4 linked regions of the Homo sapiens genome follow. The protein of the gene in region 1 purifies or fractionates together with the protein of each later gene. This does not show direct contact. Each region holds a gene or a part of one and is shown in the gene's direction. Other genes may lie near its edges.

The links.
Region 2: the proteins of EDEM2 (region 1) and OMA1 purify together in Homo sapiens (co-immunoprecipitation; 3 studies listed by BioGRID and IntAct, with this or other methods). This does not show direct contact.
Region 3: the proteins of EDEM2 (region 1) and SLC38A10 purify together in Homo sapiens (co-immunoprecipitation; 3 studies listed by BioGRID and IntAct, with this or other methods). This does not show direct contact.
Region 4: the proteins of EDEM2 (region 1) and UHMK1 purify together in Homo sapiens (co-immunoprecipitation; 3 studies listed by BioGRID and IntAct, with this or other methods). This does not show direct contact.

The regions. Positions count from the first base shown.
Region 1 is NC_000020.11:35,116,320-35,123,346, reverse strand, and holds part of EDEM2 (ER degradation-enhancing alpha-mannosidase-like protein 2 isoform 1 precursor), read left to right. Parts: intron 1-4,627; coding exon 4,628-4,749; intron 4,750-6,139; exon of another isoform or gene 6,140-6,211; intron 6,212-7,027. Other genes in the region: MMP24-AS1-EDEM2 (ER degradation-enhancing alpha-mannosidase-like protein 2), read left to right, coding at 4,628-4,749. UniProt on the Homo sapiens protein: Involved in the endoplasmic reticulum-associated degradation (ERAD) pathway that targets misfolded glycoproteins for degradation in an N-glycan-dependent manner.
Region 2 is NC_000001.11:58,480,727-58,487,753, reverse strand, and holds part of OMA1 (metalloendopeptidase OMA1, mitochondrial precursor), read left to right. Parts: intron 1-6,579; coding exon 6,580-6,789; 3' UTR 6,790-7,027. UniProt on the Homo sapiens protein: Metalloprotease that is part of the quality control system in the inner membrane of mitochondria. Activated in response to various mitochondrial stress, leading to the proteolytic cleavage of target proteins, such as OPA1, UQCC3 and DELE1.
Region 3 is NC_000017.11:81,244,297-81,250,320, reverse strand, and holds the end of SLC38A10 (solute carrier family 38 member 10), read left to right. Parts: intron 1-227; coding exon of another isoform or gene 228-251; intron 252-3,259; coding exon 3,260-3,436; intron 3,437-3,647; coding exon 3,648-4,765; 3' UTR 4,766-5,510; downstream 5,511-6,024. UniProt on the Homo sapiens protein: Facilitates bidirectional transport of amino acids. May act as a glutamate sensor that regulates glutamate-glutamine cycle and mTOR signaling in the brain. The transport mechanism remains to be elucidated.
Region 4 is NC_000001.11:162,493,454-162,500,833, forward strand, and holds the start of UHMK1 (serine/threonine-protein kinase Kist), read left to right. Parts: upstream 1-4,364; 5' UTR 4,365-4,547; coding exon 4,548-4,815; intron 4,816-6,501; coding exon 6,502-6,794; intron 6,795-7,380. UniProt on the Homo sapiens protein: Upon serum stimulation, phosphorylates CDKN1B/p27Kip1, thus controlling CDKN1B subcellular location and cell cycle progression in G1 phase. May be involved in trafficking and/or processing of RNA.

The DNA.
Region 1 (7,027 bases):
TGCTGGGATTACAGATGTGAGCCACTGCGACTGGCCCCATATGCTCTTTCAAATCAGGAAATGAGTGAGAAGGAAAAGGCCAAGGTTGACTCCTTTTGAGCTCCTGCCATCAGGATTTCAGAAGTGTAGGCAAGCTTCCTAAGTCCATGGGTCAGATAAATTATGCTTACGTGTATGGAATGTTAGAACTTTGGGGCGGACCTTAGGAATTACCTAGTCTCTTCCACCTCCCCATTTGCAGCTCAGAATCAAGCAAAGGACTATATTTGAGACACTCTCATAGGTTCCTTTCTAGCCCTAATGTCATTTGATTCACTTCAGGGAAGCTGAAAATTGTGAGGAGGGAAAGAAAAAGAGGGACAAAGGAAGGAAGCTTAGTCAGCACACATAGTCATCCCCCACCCCAAAACAGGCTATGAGCCCATTGTCTTAGACACTTCCCACTTTCCCACCTGAATTGCCTTTTAGCCATGGGACAGGCCTTCTGGTTATCCTGCCTTCCTCTACCCCATTTCCTTCCTCTTCTAACTCAAGTGATTATCGTAGGAGGTGTAGAGGGGACCAGGAGAGGGAATAAAGAGCAAATTCATCAACTTTTGACTCCTTAGAGGCCACTGTTATTGATGTTTCTCATGCATTTGTTCTCATGGCATGTTTTTAAAACAGGAAACTTGGTTGGGCATGGTGGCTCACGCCTGTAATCCCAGCACTTTGGGAGGCCAAGGCAGGTGGATCACCTGAAGTCAGGAGTTTGAGACCAGCCTGGCCAACATGGTGAAACCCCATCTCTACTAAAAATACAAAATTAGCTGGGCATGGTGGCGTGCACCTGTAATCTCAGCTACTGGGGAGGCTGAGACAGTAGAATCGCTTGAACCCGGGAGGTAGAAGTTGCAGTGAGCTGAGATCACGCCATTGCACTCCAGCCTGGGCAAAAAAGAGCAAAACTCCATCTCAAAAAAATAAATAAGTAAATTTTAAAAATAAGAAGCTCTGAGAAGGTATCGTATCTGGTGTTACCAACAGGTAAAGATTAGGGTTTGGAACTAAATGTAAGACATAGGCTTGCACAATCTTAGGGTTAGAGGGAACCTGAGAGGTGTTCTAATTGGAATTTTCCTAATATGGCCCTGTCAAGTGGTTATCTAGTTTTTGCTTAGTTACCACGAGTGACAAGGAGCTTGCTACTTAACAGAGGCAACCTGTTCCATTTGGGACAGGCTGGCAGGAAGGCATTCATGGAAAGTAAGACACTACTGGCCAGATGCAGTGGCTTATGCCTGTAATCCCAGCACTCTGGAAGCCTGAGGCAGGAGGATCATTTAAGCCCAGGGGTTCAAGATCAGCCTGGGCAACATAGCAAGACCTTGTCTCTATAAGAAATATAAATAAATTAGCCAAGAGTGGTGTTGCATGCCTGTAGTCCCATCCCAGCTACCTGGGAGGATCACTTGAGCCCAGGTGGTCGTAGCTGCAGTGAGCCATGATGGCGCCACTGCAATCCAGCCTGGGCAATGGAGTGAGACCCTGTCTCCAAAAAAAAAAAACATAAGGCACCGCTGTCAGGAATCCAGGAGTGCGTTAATCCAGTCATCCCTCCTACCCCAAAACAATGGCAAATAGGAGATAAGGACTACTCTTTCACTAAATTGGCCAGAGCCCTGTACTTTCGTATATGTCTCTCTGATCAGCAGTGTTGGAGCACAGAGCCTAGCCTAAAGGCCTCTGCAGGCTTTTACCTTCCTCTAAGTCCAAATCTGAACTTTGGGCTGTCTCCTTCCTCTAGAGCAGGGATTCCCCAACCCCCAGGCCGTGGACCGGTACAAGTCCATGGCCTGTTAGAAACCAGGCCACACAGCAGGAGGTGAGCTGCGTGTGAGCAAGCAAAGCTTCATCTATATTTATAGCTGCTCCTCATCGCTCACATTGCTGCCTGAGCTCCGCCTCTTGTCTTATCCGTGGTGGCATTAGACGTTCATAGGAGCACAAACCCTATTGTGAACTGCATATGTGAGGGATCTAGGTTGTGTGCTCCTTAGGAGAAGCTGATGCCTGATGATCTGTCACTGTCATCCATCAACCCCAGATAGGGCTGTCTAGTTGCAGGAAAACAAACTCAGGGCTCCCACTGACTCTACATTATGGTGGATTGTATAATTATTTCATTATATATTACAATGTAATAATAATATAAATAAAGTGCACAATAAATGTAATGCACATGAATTATCCCAAAACCATCTCCTACAAGCCCAGTTCATGGAAAAATTGTCTTCCATGAAACTGGTCCCTGGTGCCAAAACGGTTGGGGACCACTGCTCGACAGAGTTGGTCAGATGCACAGGAAAGTAAAGCAATAACTAACATGCTTAGGAGGCCCACATGTGAGGAGAGAAGCGTGATGGCTGGTCATGAGGGCACTGGCCCACCAGCTGCTAGAAGCAGAAGAGGGCTGGGTGTGGTGGCTCACGCCTGTAATCCCAGCACTTTGGGAGGCCAAGGCGGTGGATCAACTGAGGTCAGGAGTTCGAGACCAGCCTGACCAATATGGCGAAACCCTGTCTCTACTAAAAATACAAAAATTAGCCGGGCACGGTGGCATGTGCCTGTAGTCCCAGCTACTCAGGAGGCTGAGACAGGAGAATTGCTTGAACCTGGGAGGCAGAGGTTGCAGTGAGCCAAGATCATGCCATTGCACTCTAGCCTGGGTAACACAGCAAAACTCCCTCTCAAAAAAAAAAAAAAAAAAAAAAGAAGAAGCCGAAAAAAGAAGCAGAAGAGGAGGCCTCCCATGAGGGCACTGTCTTTTCTGCCTTTGAACACACAGAATGTGTTCATCTAGTAATGAATGTACCCTAGTCTGTGCCTTAGAATATGAGCAATTAGATTAGCAATTGTCTAGAGGCCTGTGAGGAGAGGGGAGGAGGAAGTAAGAGAGAACTGGGGAGATAGGCAGAGACCTTTTCTCTAAAATAAGAACTAGAGGCTGGGTGCAGTGACTCACGCCTGTTATCTCAACACTTCAGGAAGCCAAGACTGGCGGATGACTTGAGGTCAGGAGTTTGAGACCAGCCTGGCCAACATGGCGAAACCCTGTCTCCACTAAAAATACAAAAATTAGTCAGGGCTGGTGGCGCATGCCTGTAATTCCAGCTACTTGGGAGGTTGAGGCATGAGAATCCCTTGAACCCAGGAGGCAGAGTTGCAGTGAGCGGAGATCGCACCATGGCACTCCAGCCTGGGTGACAGAGTGAGACTCTGTCACAAAAAAGTAATTAACGGAATAAAATAAGAACCAGAGTTTGCAGCAATAAGCCAAAAGGGACAGAAGCACTGATCAAGCCCAGGAGGAAACAGGACAGGAGAAGGTCAGGGGGAGATGATGGTATAGAAAGGAGACAGGGGTTCTTCTGTCTCTTAGAAAAGATGGATGAAGTAGAAAAACATACTGAGCTGAGGCCACCCTTGAAGTCAACTCTACAACAGTTCTTCAGGTATTTGAAAGCAATAAACACATTTTTTTTGGATTTCCTTATCTCTAGAATAAATATTCTCATCTGGACCCACTCCTGTTGGCTAATATTCATCTTAAGGTAGAGCTCATGTCTTAACATCAAGTTCCAGTTGTGGCATAGAATTGGGCAAGACAAAACATCACTTTTTCTGGCCACAGTGAACTGATGACTACGTCTTTGTTAGATTGACGGTTTGGTGGTTTATTTTATTTTATTTTTTTAATTTTTATTTTTTGAGATAAGGTCTCACTCTTGTCATCCAGGCTGGAGTGCCGCAGTGGCTTAATCATGGCTCACTGCAGCCTCAAACTCCTGGGCTCAAGTGATCCTCCTACCTCAGCCTCCTGAGTAGCTAGGACTACAGGTGCATGCCACACCCAGCTAATCATTTTTAATTTTTGTAGAGACAAGATCTCGCCATGTTGCCCAGGCTGGTCTCAAACTCCTGGGTTCAAACGATCCTCTCACCTTGGCCTCCCAAAGTGCTGGGATTACAGGCATGAGCCACCCACCATGCCTGGCCTGCTCTTGGATATCTCAGCCTTTTCTTTTGGTCCATCCTATCTTAGAACGAGCCTTATGATGCCAAGCTCTTACTCTTCTTTTGAGTTTTAGAATTAGGTTAGACTCTGAGTGACAGGAAAAAAAATAGTAGCTTAATTAGGATAGAAATGTATTTCTCTCTCATGTTCTGGGCTTATATGGCTCGCCATGGTGTCCTTAATCCCACCTAGCTGTTAGAATAGTTAGTGTTGGCAGCCAGGCAGCCTGTGCTTAGCTAAAGTTAGGAATCCTGCTACTAAGGAGGAAGCGGGGAACAGATATTGGGAATTAGGCAACAACCTCCGCCACCTTCTCTATGCCAGAACCTGGCCACCTTTCTCTCCCTTGTGGTGGAAGTCACTGGTCAGCCTTAATGCTGGTCTCCACTGAGCTTCAAGCTTTGGGTATACTGGCTCTGAAACTCAGCACTGGGTGAGGTATCCTGTGTTCCTGCTAGTTGGGGCCTTATGGACAAGATATGGAGGGGAGTAGTCCCTCACGGCCCTAAGAGGCCCCAGGCCATCTCTGTGCAGCCACTGAGTGAGGAGGGTCTGCTTTGGACTTTGCAGAACTTATTGAAAGCGCAATGTACCTCTACCGTGCCACGGGGGATCCCACCCTCCTAGAACTCGGAAGAGATGCTGTGGAATCCATTGAAAAAATCAGCAAGGTGGAGTGCGGATTTGCAACAGTAAGTGTTTGCATGGCCCCAAGAACTGGGAAGAGTCTCCCCTTGCTGCTAAAAAGCCTCTTTAAGGGTAGAGCTTTGGGAGTTCTGACATATCAGCACTAGAAGGGACCTTGGAGATATACATAATGCTCATATTTTACAGATGGGGAGACCAAAGAACAGAGAAGCTAAGTGCCTTGCTAAAGATCTCACAGCTAGTAGAGGTAGAGCTAGAATTAGTTCCTTGGGATCTTGACCCCGGCCCTTGGCATTCCTCCCACAGTGGAGATCTTTGATCTGTTTGAATAGGTGACTTTGAAAAGGTGAGTTTAGCGAAAAGTTTTGTGAGACACTAAAATAGATTTTAAGGGGAATCCAGAGTCCCATAGCCCTATATTCAAACCTGGGACTCCTTAACAAAGCAGTCCTGCTTAGTCTCACAGATATTTCTTGAATGTCTTTCACATGCCAGGCACTCTGCTAGGCCCAAGGGTTACAGCAGTGGCCTTGCTCTCATGGAGCTTACATTTTAATGAGAAAAAAACCATGAATGTGTATCTGGTAGACAGAAGGCCAGTGTGGCTGGAGCGGAGCAAGCAAGGAGAAAAGTGGGAAGAGATAAGGTCCCAGAGGTAGGCAGGGGCTAGATCATGTAGGGTTTTGTGTAAGCCACAGGAAAGAGTTTGGGTTTTTTTTTCTACTTGGAATGTGAACCCTTGGTAGGATTTACAGCAGAGCAGTGACATGATCTGATTTGTATTTTAGAAAGATCGCTTTGGCTGCTTTGTGAAGAATAGATTGAAAGGGTCAAAGGTGAGAGCCATCTCACATCCATGCAGGAACCAAGCAGGCAAGATATAAATATGAAAGTAGAAGAAAATAGTCTGGAAGAAAATCCCCTGAAAAGCCTACAGTGTTGGGGTATGGAATTCAAAACAACAACAAAACACTTATTTTGCAAAAGTTTGTAATGTGATTATATTCTATAAGTAAAATATAGATATGTGTAGGGGAAGAGAGAAGACCTACATGTGGAAGGGAAAAAATAAACCCCTGATATGATTTGGTTTCTAATATGCTGTATTGTGTGAAAAACCAAAATGATAAGCCCACTGGGGCCTTCCTAGGAATGCTGGGCTCATTTCCATGAACATGAAGCCCTTTGGAGGTCTTCCATGGTGAATGATGGGAACAGGGGTCTGACCTTTCTCAAACAGGGCAAGGAAATAATCATCTTGATACATCAAGACCATATTTGAGTCATATTTTTAAATGTAAGATAGAGTCCACTGAGAATGTTTTGTTTAGAAGTATTACTAATTCTGAGAAGCTAAAATAAATGTTTGTAGCAAGTAATCTTAGTCATCCATGCCTGAAAACTCAGTTGAAATTCTCTAAATAAGACTCCTTACTAAAACAATGTCAATAGTTTTCATCAACAGCAGTTGAACCTAGTAAGTGTCGATACTTTGGGTCTGAGTGGAGAAAAAAAGACCCCTTATTAGTTGCTTACAAAAACTTGGTAATTGGCCAAGCGCAGTGGCTCAGGCTTGTAATCCCGGCACTTTGGGAGGCCAAGGCAGGCGGATCACGAGGTCAGGAGTTCAAGACCAGCCTGACCAACATGGTGAAACCCTGTCTCTACTAAAAATACAAAAAAAATTACCTGGGTGTGGTGGCATGTGCCTGTAGTCCCAGCTACTCTGGAGGCTGAGGCAGGAGAATTGCTTGAACCCGGGAGGCAGAGGTTGCAGTGAGCCGAGACCATGCCATTGCACTCCAGCCTGGGCAACAGAGTGAAACTCCATCTCTAAAAAAAAAAAAACTTGGTAATCATCTGAATGCCCTTCCAAGGAGGATTAGCCAAGTAAATGGTGATCCATTTTCACGATGGAATACTCTGCCATCATTAAAAGGGACGATTAGCTCTATGTTTATAGTCACAAAAAGTTGGGATAAAGGGGATAGGAGATTGTCATGTCATAGAGCAAGGTTAGCGGAGACCTTTCTGGTGAGGAAGCATTTGAGCAGAGACCTGAAGGAAGGGAGGGAACAAGCTATGAGAAAAACTGGAGGCGGAGTGCTCCAGGCTGAAAGAACCACAGATGCAAAGAGCCCGAAGCAGGAGGGTGCTGTGCTAGCTCAGGACAGAAAGGCAGCAGCTGGAGCTCTTAGAGTGGTAAGAGGTGAGGGCAGGAAGGGAGCAGGGGCCAGGTCATGACTTGCATTTTTATCCTGCATGAAATGGAGGGCTCACAGAAAGTTGTGAGTAGAGAATTGACAGGAAGACTTATGTTAT
Region 2 (7,027 bases), on another chromosome or scaffold:
TAGAAATTATAGCTAGAATGAAGCTTCTCAAATTACTAATTTACAAATTACAAATTACTAAATTACTTTAGAAAGAAGTAAGGTATAAATAAATCAAATTTAAAAAACTATTAGAACCCATAGAGTCATAATAAATTAGCAAAGAAAAGGACGCCTAGCCCTGATGGGATTTAATTTGGAGAATTTTTTCAGAAGTTCAGAGAACAATTGCCTAGTTACTAATTAGTTCTACCTTCAAAATGTAGAAAGGTATGTTATTAAGTTTCTGATTCATTTTACAAGCATAAATGATTTTGTTTTGACAATTTGATAAAAACAATAACTTTAAAAGAATTTATGGACTGGGGTCATTAATTGACAATACGATATTATATTACAGTAATTATTTACTGTGAGCAAGTTAATTATCCTCAAATGCATGAGCAGCATCATAAAAGAAAAGCTATTAAAACAGAAGAGGAAATTTAGGACTCATCTTCAGTTCCTCTTTCCTTCACTTCTGTGTCCTATTCATGAAAAAATCTTGACTGCTTTAACAAGTACATTAAGAATCTGTGGGCTTCTCAACTTCGCCACTGCTCCTTTCCTAGTAAAAGTCACCATCATCTCCTCCCAAGTTACCGCAGTCATTTCCTGTTGTCACTTTTCACCTCACGATGTCACGTTTCACCTCAACTCCTAACAACCTATTTTCAATATGTAGCCAGAGTGATCATTGTAATGTCCTTTCCTTGGTTAAAACCCTCTAGTGGCTTCTCATCTAACTTAGAATAAAAATCCAGACTCTTCCTATGTCTTCCAGGCACGTAATTTGGCCACTGCCTAGCTCTCCAACTTCACCACATGCCCCTTTCCTTAGGCTTTCCTTGGTTTAGGAAACATACAAGACCAGGGTATGTCCCCCATTAAGCTAGTGTCCTCCTTACAGCTCTTCTACTTGCTGATTTCTCTGTCTGAAACATTCTTCCCTCAGTTCTTTAGGCAAATGTCACTGTCCTGGGGAGGCTTTCTTTGATCCCATAATCTTAAATCGCTTCCCTTCCATGTACTCATTGTCCGTCCAACACACCTCACTCTTTAGTTTCTTCATGTACTTAACTAAAATTACCTTATTTGTTTATTGGCTTTTACCCTAGTGTGTAAGGCCTTTGTACACTGCTGTATCCATAGTACCTATGAGAAGTTGAGATGATTAGTGAATATTAGTTAAATGATTGCATGATGTGTAATAATAGGCAGGATAAGCAATATAATAGTGGGTGAAAAATAGAAAAATTGGCAGTAGAATTGAACAGTCCTTCCACTCCCTTATAGAAATTTAGCATGTAGGACATTAATAGTTGGTAACGGGAGAAAGATGGTCGCAGGAAATAGTAATATAAAGATAACAGTGGTCTTAGGAGTCTTCGGTTTTAATTCTGACTCAGCCATGTAACTTGGAGAAAGTTACCTAATCCAACCTTTAGTTTTCTTCATATGTGAAATCAGGATAGCAATATCTCCTAGATGTTGGATGTACATACTTGTGCATTTCTGTAGGTAAGGTCCTGCTGTCTTCTTTGCCTTGTCCCCCTCTCTTTGGCATAGACATTTTAATGATAAGTATTTTATGTCAGGCCCAAGATTTCAAAAGTGGTTCAAATTCCAATGTCAATTTAGATGTGTAAAATACCTCACGCAGTGAAAGGCACATAGAAAGTGAACAGTAGATGTTAGTTTCTTTCACTCATAGTTGTAGTCTTTAGGCTGGCTAATTCTATATTTAACTTCAAATCTTCCTCAGGATTCTCAGAACCATATATTCTTGCTATTAAAATACATTCCTGCTTTTTCTTAAACCATAAACTCCTAAGAGTATTTTCTCTATGACATTTATCATAATGATTTATTCATAGCTGGTGTTCTATAAATGTTTGTTTAAAATTTAGCATGCGTTTGTTAAGTGCCTGTTATGTGCAGTGCGTGGAGTTAAACACAGAAAACAAAGTAAAGGAAGTGGAAAGACATATTCTAGCTATATGGTAGGAAAATTTTGCTCACTTTTGAAGAGATGAAGATATATTTAATAAGATAGATTAGAATTTATAAAAATAAAAAGACATTGGCGCCCTGAAATATATAAAATGAATATGGAAAGGAAAGGAAAAAAGAAAAAATAAGTTACCAAGACATCCAATAGAATCTTACTATGCAAAGTAGATGAAGATTTGATAGAAATATGTATGGTCATAACAGGATTCTGCTTGATAGATATTTGGGGAGGAGAAACAGTTCACACATGAAGAAGTAGTGATAGAAAACCTGTATGAAGAACATATAGTGTTTCTAGCAATTAAAGAAACCTAGCTCAGACATCTCCAAAGTACATTTATTCAGTAAAAAATTTACTCAAGAAATATCATGTGATACAAAAAAGCATGAGCACAAAAAGCATGTAGAGCAAAAGCGGTAGAAACAAAACAGGTTCTAAACCCAGCTTTTTTACTTCCAGGCCAGCTTTTTTTTTTTTTTTTTTTTTTTTTTTTAGTAGTAGACTCTTTTATTTTTAGACTCTAAAGCTTCAACTTTTAATTGAGTAGAAGGTATAGAGATTTCCCTTATACATCTGTCCCCGCATACTCACAGCCTCCCATACCATCAAAATCCCATGCCAGAGTGATAATATTAGTTACAATTGATGAACCTATGTTGACCCATCATTATCACCCAAAGTCCATTAGGGTTTACTCTTGGTGCTGTACATTCAGTGCATTTTGACAAATGTATAATGACATGTATCCACCATTATAGCATCATGCAGAGTAGTTTCACTGCCATAAAAATACACTCTGTGCCTACTCATTCCTCCCTCCCCCTAGCCCCTGGCAACCACTGATCTTTTTACTGTCTCCATAGTTGTGCCTTTTCCAGAATATCATATAGTTGGAATCATGTAGCCTTTTCAGATTGGCTTTTTTCTCTTAGCAATATACGTTTAAGGTTCCTCATATCTTTTCATGGCTTGATAGCTAATTTCTTCTTAGATCTGAATAATATTCTTTTGTCTGGATATCCCACAGTTTATCCATTCACCTATCGAAGGAAATCTTGGTTATTTCCAAGTTTTAGCAAATAAAGCTGTTAAAAACATTTACCAAGCCAGCTTTTTGTTCCTTGCCCGGCATTTAACTTCTCTGAGACTCAGTTTCCTCATCTGTAAAATTGAGCTGATATTTTCTAAGGATTCTGAGGTTTGAAATTATGTAATTATCTATATAAAAGTCATGAAATGTTATGTGAATAACTGTGAATAACTCAAGTATGCCTGTATTACTGGTGACATTAAAGGTTGATAAAGCCTTTCTGGTAGAAAGCAGTTTGGTCCTATATAACAAAAAGTATAATCTACCTGTGCTTACTCTTTGATCAGATCATTCTATTTTGGGTGTTAGACTTCACATATCTCCAAATGGAGGTGAGAAAAGATTTTTTTAAAGAAAAGTTTTTATAGCAGGGTAATTTATAAAAGCCAAATAGACACAACTGTGGGAACAATTCTAATGCCCAGTAACGGAGAAATACAAAGTAAATTACATGAGGGCAGGGACCATGACTATTCTGACCAATGTGTACCTAGCACCTTACTCACTGTGGTGTTCTAAATATTTGTTGTATTAAAAAGACTGAATAAGCGAATTTAAGGATAAGAGAAGAGTTTTTACTGAATACACAAAGATCTTAGGGGATGGCATCCTATTCCTCTCTTTGTTGCTTTGCATCTCTCATTGCCACACTCAGCTGTGCCAGTTGTTACCTGCTGGACTCCATACTCTCCCCCTTTACTGATGCCAGTGCAGTGCTTAAACATAGGCACTACACTGATATAGCAGCCATGACAGGTAAACTTCTCACTTGGGAAAGAAAATTAACATCATTGTAAAGGAACTAATGCAAGAGTGACCGTACGTCCCAATTTTGCAGAGACAGTCATGGCTCATGCCTGATGTCTCAGTGCAAATCTTGCTAGCATCTCATTTCATTCTCAAAGGTATCCCAGTTTGGACAGTAGGTCACCGTTTAGCTGAGGATCTGACTTTCTGTTTACTTAAGTGCTGTAAGTGCTATAGTTGGGAAACATTTTCTTGTTGTGTCAATTCAGTTTACTTAAACATTTACTTAACACTCACTAGATATAAGGAAATCTTAAATCTGCTGTGAAATACAAAGAAAAATAAGACAAGACCACTGCCACTGAAGAATTTCACGTTAAGTAATGTTTTTTCAACTCTCCAGCTTACCTTGGTAACTCAGAGCCTAATCAGAGCTAGAAGTGCTCCTAGACCCAAGCTTCTGCCCTGACCCCATTCACTTAGAGAACGTCTATCTGGCTCGCATCTGACTACAAGTCCCTCTCTCCTGTGGGACTCAATGAAATGTTAGCATACAAGAACCTGTGCCCCTACCATACCCCACTCAGGGTATCTGGAATAATGGAATTCCTTGCCCAGATATGTTTGAGCCTGCTTTCAGGGCCCATCTGGACCTCTTCCTTGAACACATTCACACAAGGCCCTTTACAGTGCCAGATAAGCTAGGGCTGGGAGAGGGGGCAGATGGCAGGCTAGTGGCAAGAGCTACACAGTAAGCTCCCTGCAATCTTACATGTTCTGAAATTCAAGAATTCTAGTTTTGTACCTGGACTTCCAGGTAATTTCGAATGTGTATTCTTCAAAGTAGGAGAATAGAACAGATTTTAAGTAGTAGTGTATTAGCTTGACTTACTGCTTTTAGGTGTTTAGAGACATGGTATCTGGGCCTCCATTTTCATTCTTTCCATGGACCCCACAAATATTAGAGGCAGGCTGTTTAGAGTAAAACTTAAAATCCTTAGCATGACCTGTGAGGTCCTACATAATCTGCTCCTGCCCTCCACCCTGCTCCACTCGGCTGTACCTGCTTCTTCACTGTTCCAAAACACCCCAGGCACGCTCCCATCTCCCTTGTACTCGCAGCTCCCTCTTGGAATGATTTTTCCCTAGGTTGCCACATGGTCTCTTTCCTCATGTCCTTCAGGTCTGTCCCCCTCTTGACCCCCAAAGTCATTATCCTATCAGTGAGGCCTTGCCTGGATAGTCTTTCTAAGATTTTACCAGTCCCTCAAACACTGTCTCCTTTACTGCCTTATTTACTTCCCTTAAGACACATCAGTATCAGAAAGCCAGAAGTCGTAAAAAACTGAATTAGCTTTTTCCCCTAAATGTCTTTCTTTTAAAACTCCTAAATATTAAGACCATTTATCCTTAAAAATTATTTTGGCTCTTATATCTTAAAATTATCCATATACCCACTTTGAAGAGTTAAATAGTTCTAAGGCTAGTTACTTAAATCAGCAGCCAGTCCCTCAACCCTGCCATCAGTTTCAGGGGTAACTATTTCCAATTCTATTGGACGATTCTTTTAGTATTTCCCATTGTGTCTAAATAACATGCTTATGTTGCTACATTCTAACTTCAATTTTGGGCCTTAATTATTTTCCACCTTACAGGATGAGACGTAAGCCCTCTCTTTCCAGTGTCACACCCTGTGCATGTGCACACACATGCAGCTCTCCCCTTCTCAGTATGATGAAATTGTACTTTTTGGTTTCATCAAGATTTGGTATTTTAAACTGTAAGCACTAGTCATAGCTGAGCCCCATAGTACACTGTGATTACTTTTCCTTCCTTTGCAATGTTTTATTTCTCCTGGAGTTAAAAATTGTCATGATTTTGATTTGTTTACTTTTCTAAGTATATTAGTCCATTCTCATGCTGCTAATGAAACATACCTGAGACTAGGTAATTTATGAAGGAAAGAGGTTTAATTGACTTACAGTTCCATATGGCTGAGGATGGCCTCACAATCATGGTGGAAGGCGAATGAGGAGAAAAGTCATGTCTTACATGGCGGCAGTCAAGAGAGCATATGCAGGGGGAACTGCCCTTTATAAAACCATCAGATCTCGTGAGACTTAATCACTATCATGAGAACAGCACGGGAAACACCCACCTCCATGATTCAGTTACCTCCCATGACATGTGGGAATTATGGGAACTGCAATTCAAGATGAGATTTGGGTGGAGACATATGCAAACCATATCACTAGGTTATTATCATCAATTTTACCCAAGACTGTATCAGTTATGTATATCTTTTTTCAGTATATTCAGTCATCTATGTTCTGCAGTTTTTCTTGAAAAAAATCTCTCATAGAGCCTTTTTAAATCTGAATGATTCTCCGGTCTGCTAGAGTTTAACTGAAACCATAGATGTATCTCTAAGATTTGTTTACCCTCAAAACAGCATTAGGGCAGTTGTTACAGATTATTAATACTATTGTTGTTGTTTTTAAAATAATACTATTTGACCAAATCATGAAAACAACTGTTCACTGTAGATTTTTCAGTGGTTCTCTTTTATGTGTTATAATCAAGATACCTTTTATTAAAAAAATAACAATACATTCTTTGTTTTACATGGAGCATATTAGGGATTACTGAAACAATCTGAATACATTGATGTATATATATAGTATTTTTTTATTTTATTATTTCTTTATAGGCTCTCAAAATTAGAGAGATGTGTAATTGTCCACCACTGTCTAATCCAGACCCTCGATTACTATTCAAACTCAGCACGAAGCATTTTCTTGAAGAATCAGAGAAAGAAGACCTAAATATCACGAAGAAACAGAAAATGGATACTCTTCCTATTCAAAAACAGGAGCAAATACCATTAACATACATAGTTGAGAAAAGAACGGGCAGTTGAATTAAAATTTATGAGACACAAGATATATGAAGAATGTTGCAGTCCTTATCATTTTATGTTACTTTTTAAAAAATGATGTTTGAAGTGAAAAAAAAAAGGATATTCAGGGTCAAATCATGTACATTACAGATATTATCTAAATTCTTCTAGAATTTATTTTTCATGAAATATTGATGTATTTTAATCTATGTTAAAATATCTTCAATGAGGAAAATGTCACAGAATAAATTTATATTAC
Region 3 (6,024 bases), on another chromosome or scaffold:
CAGAGCCAAAAGGCGCCCCCTGGGCTCCCGGAGCTCTGAGCCACTTCAGGAGTTCGGGCATGTGGGGTTTTGTCTCCGGTTTTAGTCTGGCCATGTTTGTTGGTTCCAATTCCTATGCTCTGTTACCTGAACCTGTTTGATTCTTTTGATTTTCTTCTTTCTGAAAAAGACTTTTCACGGTTTCCTATTCTGCCTTTCTTCCGTATGCCTCTCAACGGGACGAGCAGCTGAAATTAAAAAGATAGTAGCAGGTACGAACCCAAAGGAGTGTGCTGAAGTCAAGAGCCTGTCTGGCGGGCCACAGACCTGAGCGCAGCCCCTCGGTGGCACACCTGCCCCAGGGACAGCCCTGCATGGGGACACGTGTCAGGCCCCAGACCTGCGCACGCACCCAGGCTCAGCCACAGCCCCTCAGGCAGGGTCCCGATGCCCACTCTGCTCCCTTGTGTTACAAATGCCGTGGTCCTTCTCAGCCCTGCTGTGGCCTTGCCTGTCATCAGAGGGCAGCTGGTCTCTGCAAGCGTCTGAGTGCAGGCTGCTTAGGGCACCAGCCAAGGGGGGACGCTGCCTGCACTGCTGCCTCATGGGCCACCTTGACAGATCTGCATGGGTCTCAACAGGTGGGTGGCTTCGTGCCTTCTGCAGCCCAGTCCCCGTGGTCTTGGTGGGCTCTGGCTGTAGGAACAGCCTGTCTCCTCCACGGTGCTTCACATGTGTCCCACGTGGCTTCTGGCTGGACGTGGCATGGCTCCTTCCCCCCTCCCCCTCTTTTTTCCTCCTCTTCCTCTTCCTTCCTCCCTCCTCTTCCCTCCTCCCTCCTTCTCCCTCCTCTTCTCTCCTCCCTCCTCTTCCCTCCTCCCTCCTCTTCCCTCCCTCCTTCTCCCTCCCTCCTTCTCCCTCCTCTTCCCTCCCTCCTTCATCCTCCTCTTCCCTCCCTCCTGCTCCTCTTCCCTCCCTCCTCCTCCTCTTCCCTCCTTCCTCCTCTTCCCTCCTTCCTCCTCTTCCCTCCTTCCTCCTCTTCCCTCCTTCCTCCTCTTCCCTCCTTCCTCCTCCTCCCTCCTCCTCTTCCCCCACCTTCCTTCTCCCTCCTCCTCTTTCTCCCTCCCTCCTCCCCCTCCCCCTCCTCCCTTCTGTCTCCTCTTTCCTCCTCTTCCCAGCACCAGGCCCAGGGCTAGTCCTTTGAGGAGCAAGTGAGGCCATGGTGCCTGCTCTTTCGGAACCCTGCCCTGGAGTATGGGGAGGTGTCACCAGCACATGGGATCTCGTCCTTGTACCATTGACATTCCGTGGTTGAGCCCCGCAGCACCCAGGGCGAGCACGTGGCCCACGGCCGAGGTGGCTGGTCTGCCACCTGCACTTCCTCCTGTGAAAGGAGGTGTGCGGGAGACCTGCTCTGCCCGTCATGGCCTTTCCCTGCAGGCAGGCGTCTGGCCCGGGGTGCTAGCAGGGAGCAGGGGCTGCTGCTTGAGGGCCGGCCCCATGGCCCTGATCTCCTTGGAGCCAGCCCTGTCCCCCACATCCAGGGGTCTGGGCGAGGCCCAGGGCTGCGTTCCTGGGAGAATGCTGACCCTGCACTTCTCTGGCTGGTCATGGTGTCACCACTGGGGAGGCTGGGCCGGCACGTCAGTCTATGCCTGGCATGCAGGGCCGTCCCTGAGATATTTGCTCTCACCACTCACAAAACATCCTTCTCGCTCCTGGATTGAACTTTTATGCCTCACAGCCCTAACCCATCATTTTTCAAAGCTTCCTATAATAATTTGAAAACATCTTGTAAAAATGACATAAGTCACAGCCGCTTGCGGCAAATAACTGGCCAGTGTTGAAGCGAGTCAGACCGGGTGCTCCTGCACCAAGTGTGTGCCAGCCGTAACCCGGGCAGGCCTGTCCTCTGGCCCTTGCTGCAGGCACCAGCTCTTAACACGGGGTGCACTGGGGCTCCCCATCACGCAGGACCTGCCCAGAATTTCCACAGTGGATGGTGTTCAGGAGCGGTGGTTAGGATGGCTGGCGGGGGCCTCACTGACGCTCCAGCTCCCATGCTCCCCTTAGAAGACAGCTTTTGGCCGGGTGCGGTGGCTCATGCCTGTAATCCCAGCACTTTGCGAGGCTGAGGTGTGCGAATCACGAGGTCAGGAGATCAAGACCATCCTGGCTAACACGGTGAAACCCCATCTCTACTAAAAATACAAAACATTAGCCGGGCGCGGTGGCGGGCGTCTGTAGTCCCAGCTACTCGGGAGGCTGAGGCAGAAGAATGGCGTGAACCCGGGAGGCGGAGCTTGCAGTGAGCTGAGATCGCGCCACTGCACTCCAGCCTGGGTGACAGAGTGAGACTCCCGTCTCAAAAAAAAAAAAAAAAAAAAAAAAGACAGCTTTTGTTTGTTTTTAAAATTCTCATCTCGGAGGAAACTTTCTAGAAGTACCAATATTCTTTTCAAAACATAGCTTACAGTTTTTCTTTTCTTTTTTTCTTTTTTGAGACAGGGTCTTGCTCTGTTGCCCAGGCTGGAGTGCAGTGGTGTGATCACGGCTCACTGCAGCCTCGACCTCCTGGGCTCAAATGATCCTCTGGCCTCTGCCCCCCGAGTAGCTGGGAGTACAGACGCCTCTCACCATACCCTGATCATTTTTATTTTTTTGTTTTTTTTGTTTTTGTGGAGATGGGGGTCTTGCTATGTTTCCCAGGCTGGTCTCTAACTCCTGGGCTCAAGCGATCTGCCTGCCTCCGCCTCCCAAATTGCTGGGATTACAGGCGTGAGCCGCCGTGCCCAGGCTTATTTTCTTACGTGCTTGTCCTAGAACAACTGAATGTGTAAAGTGGAAAAAACAAAAACAAAACCCCACCCAGCCCAGATAACCATCTCTGACATTCTGGCACATTCCTTTTGACTGTTGCTCTGGACACTCACTTCCATGGGCAACGAGCAGGCTTGCTGGGGTCCTGCCGGGTGCGCCTGGGGCACAGCCAGTGGGAGAACTGATGCGGCACAGTGGCTGGCTGTGCGGGAGAGGCCATCCCGGGTGGGCTTCCAGGGGCAGTCAGGGCGCAGCCTCTCCCGGGCCCTCAGGCCTGCGTGCATCACTGAGCTGTCCGGGCTTCACGGTCACAGTCATGATGGGTGTCACCAGTGGCCAGTGTTCGGGCACACTCCCTGCAGGTGACCTGTGCGTTGCCTTGCTGTGGGCCGCGCCGTCCCTGGCCCAGCACGGTGCATGAGCAGCCCGGGCACTCTGACTGTGTGCTTTCCAAACCCAGAAGCTGGCAGGGCGGAGATGCTGGACCACGCCGTCCTGCTTCAGGTGATCAAAGAACAGCAGGTGCAGCAAAAGCGCTTGCTGGACCAGCAGGAGAAGCTGCTGGCGGTGATCGAGGAGCAGCACAAGGAGATCCACCAGCAGAGGCAGGAGGACGAGGAGGATAAACCCAGGCAGGGTAGGCCGGGCTGGCGGATGGAGTGGGGTGGGGCCAGGCAGGGGGTCTCCTGCTGTCCTCATGCGGCTGGGTCTGAGGCTCGGTGGCCTCTAGACCTGAGCGTGAGTCTGGTTTTGGTTCCCAATGCTGTTGTTGCTGGTTCTTCTGAGCCCCTCCACTGGCAGCCTGTGTACAGTGCTGTGGCTAAATTGATGACCGACTTCATTTGCAGTGGAGGTGCATCAAGAGCCCGGGGCAGCGGTGCCCAGAGGCCAGGAGGCCCCTGAAGGCAAGGCCAGGGAGACGGTGGAGAATCTGCCTCCCCTGCCTTTGGACCCTGTCCTCAGAGCTCCTGGGGGCCGCCCTGCTCCATCCCAGGACCTTAACCAGCGCTCCCTGGAGCACTCTGAGGGGCCTGTGGGCAGAGACCCTGCTGGCCCTCCTGACGGCGGCCCTGACACAGAGCCTCGGGCAGCCCAGGCCAAGCTGAGAGATGGCCAGAAGGATGCCGCCCCCAGGGCAGCTGGCACTGTGAAGGAGCTCCCCAAGGGCCCGGAGCAGGTGCCCGTGCCAGACCCCGCCAGGGAAGCCGGGGGCCCAGAGGAGCGCCTCGCAGAGGAATTCCCTGGGCAAAGTCAGGACGTTACTGGCGGTTCCCAAGACAGGAAAAAACCTGGGAAGGAGGTGGCAGCCACTGGCACCAGCATTCTGAAGGAAGCCAACTGGCTCGTGGCAGGGCCAGGAGCAGAGACGGGGGACCCTCGCATGAAGCCCAAGCAAGTGAGCCGAGACCTGGGCCTTGCAGCGGACCTGCCCGGTGGGGCGGAAGGAGCAGCTGCACAGCCCCAGGCTGTGTTACGCCAGCCGGAACTGCGGGTCATCTCTGATGGCGAGCAGGGTGGACAGCAGGGCCACCGGCTGGACCATGGCGGTCACCTGGAGATGAGAAAGGCCCGCGGGGGGGACCATGTGCCTGTGTCCCACGAGCAGCCGAGAGGCGGGGAGGACGCTGCTGTCCAGGAGCCCAGGCAGAGGCCAGAGCCAGAGCTGGGGCTCAAACGAGCTGTCCCGGGGGGCCAGAGGCCGGACAATGCCAAGCCCAACCGGGACCTGAAACTGCAGGCTGGCTCCGACCTCCGGAGGCGACGGCGGGACCTTGGCCCTCATGCAGAGGGTCAGCTGGCCCCGAGGGATGGGGTCATCATTGGCCTTAACCCCCTGCCTGATGTCCAGGTGAACGACCTCCGTGGCGCCCTGGATGCCCAGCTCCGCCAGGCTGCGGGGGGAGCTCTGCAGGTGGTCCACAGCCGGCAGCTTAGACAGGCGCCTGGGCCTCCAGAGGAGTCCTAGCACCTGCTGGCCATGAGGGCCACGCCAGCCACTGCCCTCCTCGGCCAGCAGCAGGTCTGTCTCAGCCGCATCCCAGCCAAACTCTGGAGGTCACACTCGCCTCTCCCCAGGGTTTCATGTCTGAGGCCCTCACCAAGTGTGAGTGACAGTATAAAAGATTCACTGTGGCATCGTTTCCAGAATGTTCTTGCTGTCGTTCTGTTGCAGCTCTTAGTCTGAGGTCCTCTGACCTCTAGACTCTGAGCTCACTCCAGCCTGTGAGGAGAAACGGCCTCCGCTGCGAGCTGGCTGGTGCACTCCCAGGCTCAGGCTGGGGAGCTGCTGCGTCTGTGGTCAGGCCTCCTGCTCCTGCCAGGGAGCACGCGTGGTCTTCGGGTTGAGCTCGGCCGTGCGTGGAGGTGCGCATGGCTGCTCATGGTCCCAACACAGGCTACTGTGAGAGCCAGCATCCAACCCCACGCTTGCAGTGACTCAGAATGATAATTATTATGACTGTTTATCGATGCTTCCCACAGTGTGGTAGAAAGTCTTGAATAAACACTTTTGCCTTCACCCAGCCTCGGTGGATGCTGTTTGGTGTCCAGGAAGCACAGGGAGCAGGGGCCAGACAAGCCGGGTGTCCAGGGGCACTGGCCGGTGCCGCCCTTTGCACTCCTCATGGTTGGCCCAGCCCTCCATTGTCTGTGTTTTTCAAAATCCAATTGTGGCTTTTTTTAAAAAGTAAAAAACACCACTGATAACCTGATTAGTGAAGTTGGTCCTGGGGGAGTGACTGAAAGGAAAGCCTGAGGCCGGCTCAGGATTCCAGATGTGTAAAGCAGAGGCCAGAGGTCATGAGGGAACGGCGCCATGACCTGAGCGTCGCAGTGACTGGACACTAGACGCAGCACAGCCCCAGAGAGACCCTGTGAGCAGGCAGAGCCGCCTGGTGCCAGGAGGTGGTCCAGCCCCCAGGGCCAGGCTGACGGGCGTGCTGCCTCGTGACCAGGACACGCTCCACAGCCCTCTCACCTGGCGGGAGAGAGGAGGTGCTGCTGTGTCCACAGCATCCGAGTCTGCTTTGGCTCGTCCTCTGGGGAGCTTGCGCCCCAACCCTGCCACGAAACCCTGCCACGAAGGGCAGAGGACCAGGGCCTGGGTCTGGGGGAGGCCCGTGTTGGCGAAGGGTCCCTGCATGGAGGGCCGGCCTCAGCCTCTGGTGGTGTCTTCCTGCACCTTTTGATATCCTTTTGGCTCTTTATTATAGTTTCTTCCCTTGA
Region 4 (7,380 bases), on another chromosome or scaffold:
AACAAGTGAGACTCTGTCTCTAAAAAAAGAAGAAGAAAAAGAGCAGGAGAGTGCACACATCTCAGTGACAACCAGACAAGATGATGAAAAATGATACTGAAAAGCAGATGTGTCAATGAAAAAAGCCAAACTCTGTAAAATATTTGAGAAGATTTATTCTGAGCCAAATATGAGTGGCCATGGCCCAAGGCATAGTCTCAAGAAGTCCTGAGAACAAGCTCCCAATATGTTTGGATTACATCTTGGTTTTATATGTTTTAGGGAAACATAAGACATCAATCAATATACGTGGGTACACACTGGATTGGTCTAGAAAGGTGCAACAAAGCAGGGGTGATGGCTTTCAGGTCATGGGTGGATTCAAAGATTTTCTGATTGCAGTCGTTTGAAAGAGTTATTGTCCTGTAATCAATAGAAAGGAGTATCTTGGATAAGATAAGGAGTTGTATAGTGAGAATACATAGATACAGGGAGGGTAACAACACACACTGGGGCCTGTTGGGGATGGGATGGGAGGAGGGAGAGCATTGAGAAAAATAGCTAAGGTATGCTGGGCTTAATACCTAGCTGATGGGTTGGTAGGTGCAGCAAACTACCATGGCACACATTTACCTACCTATGTAATAAGCCTGCACATCCTGCACGTGTACCCCGGAACTTAAATAAAAATTAAAATTAATAAGAAATAAAAAAGATAAGGGGTTGTAGAGACCAAGAATCTCATTATGTAGATGAAGTCTCATAGATGGTCATCCTTAGAGACAATAGATGAAAAATGTTTCTTATTTGGACCTTTAGAAGGTGCTAGACTCTCATTTAATATCTTCAGGGTTGGGAGGGCCTGGAAGGGGGAAAAGCCATAGTTATGTTAACACAGATTATTTACAGATGCAAATTTCCCCCACAAAAGACAGGCTTTGCAGGGCCATTTCAAAATATAGCAAAGCAACATATTTGGGGGCTAGGCACAGTGGCTCATGCCTGTTATCCCAGCACTTCGGGAGGCCAAGATGGGTGGATTACCTGAGCTCAGGAGTTCGAGATCAGCCTGGCCAACGTGGTGAAACCTCAACTCTACTAAAAATAAAAAATTAGCTGGGTGTGGTGGCAGGCACGAATAATCCCAGCTACTTGGGAGGCTGAGGCAGGAGAATTGTTTGAACTCGGGAGGGAGAGGTTGCAGTGAGCCAAGATCGCACCATTGCACTCCAGCCTGGGTGAAATTCCATCTCAAAAAAAAAGCAAAACTCTGTCTCAAAAAAAAAAGAGGCCGGGCATGGTGGCTCACGCCTGTAATCCCAGCACTTTGGGAGGCTGAGGCAGGCAGATCACAAGGTCAAGAGATAGAGACCATCCTGGCCAACATGGTGAAAATACAAAATTAGCGGGGCGTGGTGGTGGATGCCTGTAATCCCAGCTACTCGGGAGGCTGAGGCAGGAGAATCGCTTGAACCCAAGAGGCGGAGGTTGCGGTGAGTCAAGATCGTGCCATTGCACTCCAGCCTAGGCAACAAGAGCGAAATTCCGTCTCAAAAAAAAAAAAGGAAATATATTTGGGGTTAAAATATTTGTATTTCCTTCTTTATCTGTCATGTGATGTTATGCCAGAGTTAGGTTGGAAAGTAAGTCACGTTATATGGGGTTAAACAAAACCCATCTTGTGGCCGGGTGCAGTGGCTCATGCCTGTAATCCTAACACTTTGGGAGGCCAAGGTAGGAGGATTACCTGAGGTCAGGAGTTCGAGGCCAGCCTGACCAACATGGCAAAACCCCGTCTCTACTAAAAATACAAAATTTAACCGGGCATGGTGGCGCATGCCTATAATCCCAGCTACTCGGGAGGCTGAGGTGGGAGAATTCCTTGAACCCAGGAGGCAGAGGTTGCAGTGAGCTGAGATCACGCCACTGCACTCCAGCCTGGGTGATAGAGTGAGACTTTGTCTCAAACAAACAAACCAACCAACCAACCTATCTTGTTACTGGAAAGTGGTCTCAATCCAGACCCCAGGAGAGGGTTCTTGGACCTCACGCAAGAAAGAATTCAGAATGAGTCCATAAAGCAAGTTTATTAGGAAGTAAAAGGGATAAAAGAATGGCTACTCCATAGGCAGAGCAACAGCTTAGGCTGCTCGACTTATAGTTATTCATATTTATAGTTATTTCTTGATTATATGCTAAACAAGGGGTGGATTATTCATGAGTTTTCCAGGAAAGGAGTGGGCAATTCCTGGAACTGAGGGTTCCTCCTCTTTTTAGACCATGTAGGGTAACTTCCAGGACGTTGCCATACCATTTGTAAATTGTAATGGTGCTGGTAAGAGTTTCCTTTAGCATGCTAATGTATTATAATTAGCATCTAATGAGTAGTAAGGACGACCAGAGGTCACCTTCACCACCATTTTGGTTTTGGTGGGTTTTGGCTGGCTTCTTTACTGCAATCTGTTTTATCAGCAAGGTCTTTGTGACCTGTATCTTGTGTTGACCTCCTATCTCATCCTGTGACTTAGAATACCTAACTTCCTGGAAATGCAGCCCAGTAGATCTGAGCCTTATTTTACCCAGCTCCTATTCAAGATGGAGTTGCTCTGGTTTGAACACCTCTGACAATCTGATGAGATTTTATGGTTTGTAGGCTGTGACTCCTCACATCCCTTAGATAAGAATTTGGGGCCAGGTGCAGTGGCTCACGCTTGTAATCCCAGCACTTTGGGAAGGTGAGGCAGGCGGATCACAAGGGCAGGAGTTCGAGACCAGCCTGACCAACATGGAGAAACTTCATCTCTACTAAAAATACAAAATTAGCTGGCATGGTGGCAAATTCCTGTAATTCCAGCTACTTGGGAGGCTGAGGCAGGAGAATCGCTGGACCCCAGGAGGAGGAGGTTGCGGTGGGCGGAGATGCCGAGATCATGCCATTGCACCCCAGCCTGGGCAACAAGAGCGAAACTCCGTCTTACCAAAAAAAAAAAAAAAAAAAAAAAAAATTGAGCAAGAGAGAAGACAGGTCAGAGTTTAGTCCTCAACCTCTCCTCAAACTTTCCACTTAGCACTACATGAACCATCTCATCTGGCTGGGAACTTACACAAAACCTGAAGAAAAGAAGATAGGGCCTATTGTCTGATACTAAGTTTTTGCCACACAATCAGAATAGATCTTGAAATAGAAAAGGTTGAATGACTGAAAAGTAAAGAAGGCTACATTTCTTACACACTCGAGTTTGTGGATTGAGATGCCTATTTGCTACATTTGTTACTCAATAAACGTTTGCTGAATGAATAAAATAATTGAATAAATAAATGAAAAATAAAAATTTGGAACAGATCCGTGTTTGCCCAGGGTGAATGCTTTTTGATGAGGGAGCCATAGGCAAGGTGGACTATGTTGATAAAAAGAGTTAAACTCTGTAAAATATTTGAAGAGATTTATTCTGAGCCAACTATGAGTGACCATGGTCTGTGACACAGCCCTCAGGAGATCCTGAGAACATGTACCCAAGGTGGTTGGGGTGCAGCTTGGTTTTATACATTTTGGGAGACATGAGACTTCAATCAAATATATTTAAGAAATACATTGATTTGGCCCAGAAAGGTGGGAAAACTCGAAGCGGGAATTGGTGGGGGGAGAAATGGGTCCTTCCAGGTTATAGGTAGATTTAAAATTTTTCTAATTGGCAATTGGTTGAAAGAGTTATCAATAGAAAGGAATGTCTGGGTTGTCATAAGAACTTGTGGAGACCAAAGTTTTGTCATGCAGATGAAGCCTCCAGGTACCAGGCTTCCAAGAAAATAGATTGTAAATGTTTCTTACCAGACCGAAGGTCTGTGTTGACCTTAACCGGAGAGGTATGAGGCTAGTCGGACCCCCACTTCCCGTCATGGACTGAACCAGAATTTTAGAGTGCCCTGGCCTGGGAGAAAGTCCATTCCGATGGTTGGCGACACGGGGGGCTTAGAATTGTATTTTCGGTTTACATCTAAAAGAAGAACAAAGGTCTAGGCTTCCAGAATCATGGGTTCTGGTGACCGTGGACCTGGAGGTGATGGTAAACTCTCTTTTTGTTCCTGGGGTGTTTTCCTTGGGATCCTTTCTATGAGAAATGTAGGCCGGGTTTTATTTTTCGGGTTCCTAGTGGTGAGGTAAGGTGAGGTGCCTCAACAAGAAAAAGGACCAGTTTTGGCTTCAGGTCTATGTGAAAGCGGTTAACACTGGGCCTGGAATGGTAGATACTCAATAATTAAGGTTACTTCTTATTCTCGGTTCTTTTTTCCAAACCTAGCGCGTCTAATCTCTTCTAGGCCCCGCCCCTTCTGAGCCCCCCCTCCTTCGGCCTGTATGATAGGCTCTTCCTCCATTTCCGGCTTCTGGGACTCGGGTGCACCACGGCTTCCGGTGTCATGGCTGCTTGAAGTCCCGGGAGTCGGTGAGGCGGCTGCAGGTCCCTCCCTGCGGAGCCGCTGGTCCGGCTGGCGGAGATGTGACCGCGGGCCCGGCCGGCCTGCCTCAGGCGTCGCGTCAGCTCCCGTGTCCGTGCCCTTAACCCACACCGATGGCGGGATCCGGCTGCGCCTGGGGCGCGGAGCCGCCGCGTTTTCTGGAGGCCTTCGGGCGGCTGTGGCAGGTACAGAGCCGTCTGGGTAGCGGCTCCTCCGCCTCGGTGTATCGGGTTCGCTGCTGCGGCAACCCTGGCTCGCCCCCCGGCGCCCTCAAGCAGTTCTTGCCGCCAGGAACCACCGGGGCTGCGGCCTCTGCCGCCGAGTATGGTTTCCGCAAAGAGAGGGCGGCGCTGGAACAGTTGCAGGGTCACAGAAACATCGGTAATTGCCGCTGTCTCCTTTCTCTTCTTGCCCAGGTCACAGTCCGAGCACACTCTTCCTCTCGCTGTCTGGCGTTCCATCTTCCTCCCCTTCTGCGGGAGAAGCGGGTTTAGCCCTCTTTATCACCCCATCCAGGCCCCTTTCCCCTTTCACTTTATTACTGTCTGCGGTATAGTGGAGTTGGTGGTCTGCTTTGCCAGGTGTCACATAGATGCTCAGTAAATTGTCTTGCTTCGAGTCTCATCGGAGAATGCCGCATTCATTAGCATACAGAAATATCTTTTCTAGTGAGAGGAGGCATGTCTTTGCTAGATTGTCGTGTCTTGTGTGGAAATTTTTGAATCTTTGCATACCAGTAGAAAATGGGAACTACGTCTGGGCCTTGTGACATCAATGCTAGTAACTCGTATAGCTCACCTATTATATCTTTAGTACGGATTTGGAAGAAATGATGCACTATTCCATGGGAGCCTTTATAGAAGTGTGAAATTTAGGAACACTATACCTTTGCTCTCTTGAGACTGTTTCAAGAATCAGATACTCAGAATGTAAGATATGTAATGATCACTGATGATTGATCTGTGAAAAGGTTTCATTTTCATTACACGACAGAAAGCTTATCATTAGTTATAGCTTTGGTTATTAAAGAAAAGTCTTATTTCCTAGCAAGTATGATGCATAGTTAATTTGAAGAGTGAGTTTTTTTATAATATCATTTTGGAGAAGAATTAACACTAGTGCTACATTTTTTTAGTTTACTAAATGGTCTGTTACTATAACCTTGGTATTGAAAAGGGAAAAATTTTGCAAGCCTAGGGACTTGCCTGATCTCTGCAAGATTAAAATTTCATCCGAAAAGTCTTAATCTCTTTGTTAGTATTTAGATTATAGAGAGCTGTTTATTTTTGTTTTAGTTTTTTTTTTTGAGACAAGTTCTTACTCTGTCACCCAGGCTGGAGTACAATGGCGAGATCACAGTTCACTCCAGCCTCCAATTCCTCCTAAAGCCATGCTCCTACCTCAGCCTCCCAGGTAGCTGGGACTACAGGCACGTAGCACCAAGCCTGGCTAATTTTTTGTAGAGAAGAGGTCCCCTTTTGTTACCCAGGCTGGTCTCCAAACTCCTGGGCTCAAGCAGTCCTCCTGCCTCGGTCTCTCAGAATGCTGGGATCACGGGCATGAGCCACCGTGGCAGACCTAGACTGCTGTTTTGGATGAAGAAGCAATGTTTAGTTTGGTTTTTGCGCATTGTGACATTCCTTTTAAAAGAGTTACTTAATATTTGGGTTTTTACTTTTAAAAATTTCTTTTTTTTTAAAGGACCTCATGATGCAACAGTAAGTTTTATTTATTTATATTTAGGTTTTTTACTTTTAATCATTTTTGCTTGGCACTCCAAGTTCGTGTTCATCACCAATGAGTACTTGGTGAAACACAAATTGAATAATTGTACCATATTTAGTATCTGTGAATGGTAATCAGCTGTTGTAGGCTGTCTCATCTTATTTTTATTAAAATAACCCAATTGCCAAAAGATCTTATTCATGGGAAAAATAAATTACAGTGGAAGCTTGCTCATCAAAGTTATCCTTATCTAGACTATCTCAAATTTGTACTGCAGTTACCTACTTTAGTAGTGACTTACTCTGAGTCTGATTTTTAAAGTATTATAATTTCTTTTTCTAGTGACTTTGTATGGAGTGTTTACAATCCACTTTTCTCCAAATGTGCCATCACGCTGTCTGTTGCTTGAACTCCTGGATGTCAGTGTTTCGGAATTGCTCTTATATTCCAGTCACCAGGGTTGTTCCATGTGGATGATACAGCATTGTGCCCGAGATGTTTTGGAGGCCCTTGCTTTTCTTCATCATGAGGGCTATGTCCATGCGGACCTCAAACCACGTAACATATTGTGGAGTGCAGAGAATGAATGTTTTAAACTCATTGACTTTGGACTTAGCTTCAAAGAAGGCAATCAGGTAAGAAATAACCTTTTCTTTTCTCTCGCAGTTTAAAATGTAGTGGTTGAAGCCAAATATTTTTAAATGACAAGGGTAGTTTAGTAGGGGCTTACAAGTCATTTTAACCTAAATTACTGAAATGCCAGGGGATGCAGTAAATCAAAAGAATTTCAGTGCCACCGTGTAAAAAAAGGACATAATGTTTGGGTCAGGTAGGAGGAGCCAGTGAAGCATGAGAGCTCTGGAATTATTAAAAGTACTTAACCTACATAGAATGGTTTTTTAAATTTTATGCGTGTTTGGCTAATTGCTGAGTTACTATTCCTGGTCTCTTCAGTGTTGGGGCTGTATCTCGTGGCAGAATGCATATGATAGTTCTGCCAAATCCTCTTTTCTCCATGGTTTATCATTTCTTTGCAGTGTCCTTATTATCAGCAGTGCCTAATAGGTAAGAGACAATCCAAAGAAGACTTCTTTATGAGCGCTATATGGAAATGTACAGCTTGCCTCTGAGAACTGCCCAGTTAATGAACCAAAGAATTATGGTAATCAAGGACTAAAAATTTTTAGCATTTAGCTTGGCAGTGGGTTTACTGCACTCTTA